2 linked regions of the Homo sapiens genome follow. The protein of the gene in region 2 interacts with the protein of the main gene of each other region in a biochemical or structural test. Each region holds a gene or a part of one and is shown on either strand. Other genes may lie near its edges.

What was found. Proteins that work in one complex are often made in the same cells at the same time.
Region 1: the proteins of TNRC6A (region 2) and CNOT7 form a complex in vitro, tested with the Homo sapiens proteins (one study listed by BioGRID).

Annotation. Positions count from the first base shown.
Region 1 is NC_000008.11:17,227,162-17,229,857, forward strand, and holds part of CNOT7 (CCR4-NOT transcription complex subunit 7), read right to left. Parts: 3' UTR 1-2,696. UniProt on the Homo sapiens protein: Has 3'-5' poly(A) exoribonuclease activity for synthetic poly(A) RNA substrate. Its function seems to be partially redundant with that of CNOT8.
Region 2 is NC_000016.10:24,732,205-24,736,677, reverse strand, and holds part of TNRC6A (trinucleotide repeat-containing gene 6A protein), read right to left. Parts: intron 1-4,473.

The sequences.
Region 1 (2,696 bases), on a different chromosome or scaffold from region 2:
CGTTTTCACAAGCCTTAAAATTTGACCAAATAAACTTTTTTTCTGCTTCATGCATTTTTCCCAGCATCGGTTGCATCACATCTTAGTAGATTCCACTTCAGGTTGTACTGTTTATCAACTTTTTTGAAAATATTCCCACTTGTAGTTCCATACAAATTCTTCGATCACTTCAAATCCAGCAATGGTTTCTCAAAAAATAAAGCTAGGCAGTACTGACTAGTAAGAGGCAAAGAATTAACAGTGTCATTTGATGTTGTGTCCAAAATCCTCATTCTTCAAACTACTGTTCTCATCAAAGGGCTGATGTCTTAATTTTCTCTGGACACATGTCTTTGGGTTGGTTACTATCTTCAAGCACGATGTAATTCAGCATTAGTAAATGGTTTTCTTTGCTTGGCTAACAAATAGGCTACTTGTAAACATTTTGGTTGCAGCCTCATTTTTATTACTTTTGTGAAATTTTGCTGTGATGTTTCATTTAAATTTTCTAATTCTTCTGACTGTTGCTTTCCCACCAGTTGGGAATATTGTGATGTTAGTCTGATACTGTCAGTCTATTCTTTTACCAGTTATGGTGACACTGCATTATAAACACAATGTACCAGCATATAATAAAATAGTCCATATTCCAATGTGCCTTGAAAGTGTAACATTCAAAGGTACTTTTCTTGTTCTGAGATACAGGGCATGAACTGGTAGCAGAAAAAGTAATAAATCTAGCAATACACAGGGCATTCCAAATGCTTTCAGGTAATATCTGCATCACCATGATTCTGTAGCTTGCCAAGCGGCAATGTGAAACAAGACACACATACACAGGTTCTGTAGCAGCTACTCAACTTTCCCATTATAGCAAAAAAGTATCCATAGATAATATGTAAATTAGTGTGGCTGCATTCCAATAAAAACTTATAGACACTAAAATTTGAATTTCATGTAATTTTCAGATGTCAGGAAATAATCTTTTGATTATTTTTCCCAACCATTTAAAAGCCATTTTCAGTTCATGGGCCACACAAAAACAGGCAGCAAGCTGATTCTGGCTACGGGCCATAGTTTGACAACCCTTGCTCTAGTAGATTTAACAGAATATATGAGCCTGTAATTAATTAATGGCTCAGTAACACTAAAATATCAGCCAAATATCTTACATCTGGAACCTAGACTTTACAAACATTGAGACTGTCTGGAACAAAATAAAAAAGTAAAACTTAGACCCAGTAAAAGTCAAAATGTTCCTCTACAAAAGTTACACTATACGGTTGCTCAACCTACAATGAGGTTACATCTGAAAAAATACTAAGATGCATTTAATGCAGGCAACAGCATACAGTCCCCCAATTTACGATGGTTCAAGTTATAAATTTTGACTTTGCAATGGTGCAAAAGCAATACACATTCAGTAGAAACTATAACCCCATCTTTGGTCCTAAGGCGCTCCTAAACTTTTGATGGGGTTACCTCTCAATACACCCACTGTAAAGTTGAAAAATCATTAAGTCGAAAGTAAGTTAGGGATTATCTATACTTTTTAGGGACAGAAGCCAGAAATGATACAAGTTATGAGATTGAGCAACTATGTGGCTAATAAAAAGGCAATCTTTATCATTCCTATTTGAAATCCAGCATTGATTTCTCAAATAGTTGAACAGAATTTAAATATTAGTTTTCTCAGCTAACAAATCACAAGCGAAAAGAAGCTTCACTTCCTTTTTAACGAAGACAAAAGAAGCCAGTTAGAAACTTACTACATTGTGTTAGATTTTTTAAAAAGCCACAGTTATACCAAATGTATTTACTTTGTGAAGTATATCCTTCGGAATAAATGCATTCCTGGAAAGGAGAAACAGAAGTCAGTCCTTAATTAGCTAGTTGAGGTACTCATAAAGAACAAGAATAAGCCAACACTTGAAATGCAGAAAACTCAGACTGATTTTTCAATTAATGGACTAATAATCATCTAGGGTTAATGAAGGAAGTTACTGAATTCTGTTGAGTTGCCCAAATAAAAATGAACAATATCCCCCAAATAAGTATTTCCAAAAGAAAATCACCAGTCATCAACATTTATAAGAAAACATTTTGAAGCCTTTATTTACAAAAGCTTTAAAAACAAATAATACCCTCTGTTTTGCAAATAATGTTTTGTTTAAAAAGGACCACCCAGTTACAGCACTGTAATATCATGAATAAAGAATGTACAAGGGAGACAAACCAATGTGACTAACATTTGGAGATTTGCTAATATTACTGATTGAAGTGTAGGTAACACACATTATAACTTGTAGTCCATCATTTCGGGGTAGAGTTAATGATTACCGTAAAGTCTTCCTACACATGCTCTGGTCTGGTCACATATTCTGCATGGCTAAGTATTTCACAGTCTCTTTTGTCAATATATATAAAATAGATTGCAAAGATATACACAAAAAAATAAGCATTACACTCCTCAGGTAATTTTATCAGCTATATATATATATATGAGAATATATATATATTTTGTTGTTTTGTACCAAATCTCTCCATTATTTACCTTTGTAGCAACTATGAAAGCACAATTTTTGTCTTCTAATTTAATTTGGTACAAAATATACCTAAAGACTTATCTTTGGATTTTTAATAAAATTGATTTGTGTAACCAACAAATCAAGAGCATCATAAGAATGGCTACAAAATTTAAAAAAAAAAAAAGGGTA
Region 2 (4,473 bases):
CATCATCACCTATGGGATACTCCTGCCAAAAAGGGTCAACCTGAACCTAATCATACAGACAAGACCCAAAAAATGCAAATTTCAGTCTGCAAAAACAACTAGACTGGACTATTTCAAAATGTCATTGTCAAGAGAGAAGCAGAAAAGGGCAGGAAAATGCTCCTAATGTAAGAGAAACTTCAGACACAACTAAATGCAACCCAGGATACAGCAATTGAGTGAAAGAACAAATACAACTTTAAAAAAAATTTTGAGAAAATTGGGAAAATCTGAATAGGGACCAGACAGAATTGTAAAGTTAAACTTCCTGTGGGTGATCATTTGATTGCTGTCAGGTAGAATGCCCTTATTCTGTGAGATACCTACTGCCATACTTTGGTGTGCAATGTCACGATAGAACAAATGTGGCAAAATATTAATAATCACTAAAACTAGGTAAAGAGATACAGGTATTAGTTGCAACATTTTTCCAATTTTGCTTAAGGTTAGAATGATTGATTATTTATTTGAGACAGAGTTTTGCTTTTGTGCCCAGGCTAGGCTGGAGTGCAATGGCGCAATTTCGGCTCACTGCAACCCTCGCCTCCCAGGTTCAAGCGATTCTCCTCCCTCACCCTCACAAGTAGCTGGGATTACAGGCATGTGCCACCACACCAGGCTAATTTTGGTATTTTTAGTAAAGATGGGGTTTCACCATGTTGGTCAGGCTGGTGTTGAACTCCTGACCTCCAGTGATCTGCCCACCTCGGCCTCCCAAAGTGCTGGGATTACAGGCATGAGCCACTGTGCCCGGCCAATTTTTTAAAATTTTAAAATGAGATAGGGATTTCTGTTTTTTCAGTGAGAGATTTATCATGCATCAGCCTGAACAGAATACATATAACGCATACCATTTTAGTCTTTCCAATCATGGGCAATACTTTTGCAGTTGTCATTAAAATTGTAAATATGTTTTGCAATTTATACTTTCAGACATTTCAGATGCCAAAAATCAAAAGAGCTTACAGAATGGTATTCTTTTGATGTTTATATTCAAATTTTCCACAGAGGGTTGTTACACATTTTTAAATTAAGTTTACAGATTGTGATTAATTTATCCTATCAAGTGATTTACCACCTAATTGCCAAATTAAGCTGGAAAAAAAGCATATTGGGTTGGTACATTAAAAATGAGCAAAAACCACAATTAACTTTCGCACCAACCTATAGCAATATGCATGTGTTGGCCTGCAAACCGTATCACAGCAAAGCAAAAGAAAAGCTTAACAAAATCAGATTTTCTTTCTTTTTTTTCAGACAAAGGTTGATGAATTGCATGAGTGGGATCCACCTTAGCTACGGAGACCTAATGCCTTGGGGTTTTACTCCTGCTGTCCTAGTCATTTCTTTTCTTTCTTTCGAAACAGAGTTTCACTCTGTTGCCCAGGCTGGAGCGCAGTGGCACAATCTCGGCTCACTGCAACCTCCACCTCCCAGGTTCAGATTCTCCTGCCTCAGCCTCCCAAGTAGCTGGGATTACAGGCACATGCCATCACACCCAGCTAATTTTTGTACTTTTAGTAGAGACGGGGTCTCACCATGTTGGCCAAGCTGGTCTTGAATTCCTGACCTCAAATGATCCACGTGCCTCAGTCTCCCAAAGTGCTGGGATTACCCGTGTGAGCCACTGCACCTGGCCAGTCCTAGTCATTTCTAATATAGCATTTGTCCCACGCAAAAGCATCTCAGATAAGTGTCCCAGTTTAGATGCAACATTATATGGTATATAGCACTTTTAACAACTTTTGTTATATGATGACATACAGTTGGTTTATGGGGGGACAAATCAGTATAACGTGAAGTTAACTTCTACTTTAAACAAAACACATTTAGTACATGATAGTAAAGTCATCACTAGAATGAACATAACATATTGAGATAACTGCTTTTACTCTTTTAGAATAAAAAAGGAGAAACCAAAATTATATTTTATCTATTGTGCAATATAAAATAAAATACTGCACATGGGAGGAATACTAGAATTAGAGTCAAAAGGCCTGTTTAAATCCCAGCTGGGTCACTTGACAGAGAATATAAACTTGCGTAAGTTACTGAATCTGTTTCAACCACAGCTTTCTCACTTGAGAAATGAAGAAGTCAGAATGCTGGCTGATCTCTATCTAAAGTCATAGTCCAGCTCTAAATATTCAATGATTCTATGATTCTGGCCTCCAAAATATTTTTTCAGACTAGACCAGCTGAGTTCTACTGGTCTAGACCAGTACTGGTAGATTTTTTTTTTACAACTGCAAAATGTAACTTAGCATCTTCTCTCCCCAAACTCCTATTTCTGCTCTGACTTGTTCTGTTCAGAGGTTGGGTCAAACTCTCATTCACCCATGATGAAGATTCCTATGTATTTTTGACTCCTCTGACACCTAATCAGCTGTCAAATCCCAGATTCTTAACTTCCTCAGTATCTTATACACTCATCTTTTTTTTCCTTTCTCTCTCTTTTTGCTTTGAGACAGGGTTGCACTCTGTTTCCCAGGCTGGAATGCAGTGGCACAAACTCAGCTCACTGAAGCCTCAAACTGCTGGGCTCAAGCAAACCTCCCACCTCAGCCTCCCAAGTAGCTGGGACTACAGGTGCACACCACCACACCCAGCTAATTTTTTAAAATTCTTTTGTAGAGGCAGAGTCTTATCATGTTGCACAGGCTGGTCTCAAACTCCTGGGCTCAATCCTCCTGCCTTGGCCTCCCAAAGTGCTGGGATTACAGGCGTTAGCCACTGGGTCCAGCCTCACTCACCTCTTTTTGCCACCACTTCAATTCAGGCCTCCATCGCTTCTTGCCTAGATCGCTAGTTTTCTCCCATAAATACACCTGGTTAGTAATCCCAGACCAGAAGATTATTCTATCACATCAGTACGCAACAAAAAGCATGCAATAGCTCCCATACCTAAAAATTTATGCACAAGTTCCTCAACCTGACATTCAAGAACCTCTATATCTGGCCTTAACCAGTTTGCTACAAATACCTTATATAACCTGAACTACCCACTGCAATATCAAAATCTCCTGTACTTTCTGGATTTTTGTGTCCTTACTTCTGTTGTTGTTCTTACAATGCCCTTTTATCTGCCTTTCAAAACTGATTCCATTCTTCAAAGTTCAGTTCTAATGGTAATCGCCCTCATGTAGATATTATGGCTCCCATGATACTAACATAATGTGACAATTTTAATGGCCAACTGTGAATTTTAAAAGACAGTTTACCTATGATAGTAAACTAAATTTATTATTTGTGCCAATGTTGTTTAACTGGCACTGGCTACCAGGCACACTGTCTTGAGGATTTGCAGCTTAGCAGAGGAAAAGGAGAATGGCAACACATCTTTGACATTCAGAAACCAGGGCTTCCAAATTGAGGATCTACATAATAGGGTCTAGGCTTCCATGTTATTAAAAGATTTTTTTTTCTTTTTTCAGACAGAGTTTCACTCTGTCAAGTAGGCTGGAGTGCAGTGGCACAATCTCGGCTCTCCGCTCCCAGGGTTCAAGTAATTCTCCTGACTCAGCCTCCCGGGTAGCTGGGAATACAGGCGCATGCCACCACGCCCAACTAATTTTTGTATTTTTAGTAAAAATGAGGTTTCACTATGTTGGCCAGGCTGGTCTCGAACTCCTGACCTCAAGCAATCCACCTGCCTTGGCCTCCCAAAGTGCTGGGATTATAGGTGTGAGCCACAGCACTCGACCAAAAGATGTTTAAATTAACTCAACATCTAAAAGTTTGGAGGCTTTCACGTTACAATTCCTAATGAAGATCTAGAGCAGTGGTTCTCAGCCAGGGTCGATTCTGCGCCACTCCCAGGGACATCTAGCAATATCTGGAAGCATTGGTGATTGTCACAACTGGACGGGGAGTGCTACTGCGGATGCTGAACATCCTGTGATGCACAGAACAACCCTCAAAATAATAAATTATCTGGTCCAAAATGTCAAGTGCCCAGATGAAAAAACTGATCTAGAAGTATTGCATGCATCTGTGGGTCCCGCCTACCAAAAGAAATTTTCAAATTTTGCAAGTTCGAAGCCTAAAAAGTTACTCCAATTACCAGTGATATGGTCTCCTCCAAGTTACTTAACCTCTTTATACATCAAATTCTCCATCTGTAAAACGGAGATAACAATACTACCTACCTCACAGGGTTTTTCAAGGATCAGATGAGTCCATGTAAAATCTTAGGAAAAGTGTGCCAGGCACATAGTAAGCAATCAATAAATTTAACTACTTACATTCTTCCCTGGCTTAGTGCCCAGTCCCACAGTTGAAATATCGAAAATGCTCAAAAAATGGTTACTCAATGAATACAATGCCTTGATTTCCTGGAGAGAGCACTATGGGTAAAGACAGATACATTCTTTTTTGTGAAAAAGGAAACACAGCTAGAGATGGAGATGAAGGAAGCATCTGCCCACCTAATCA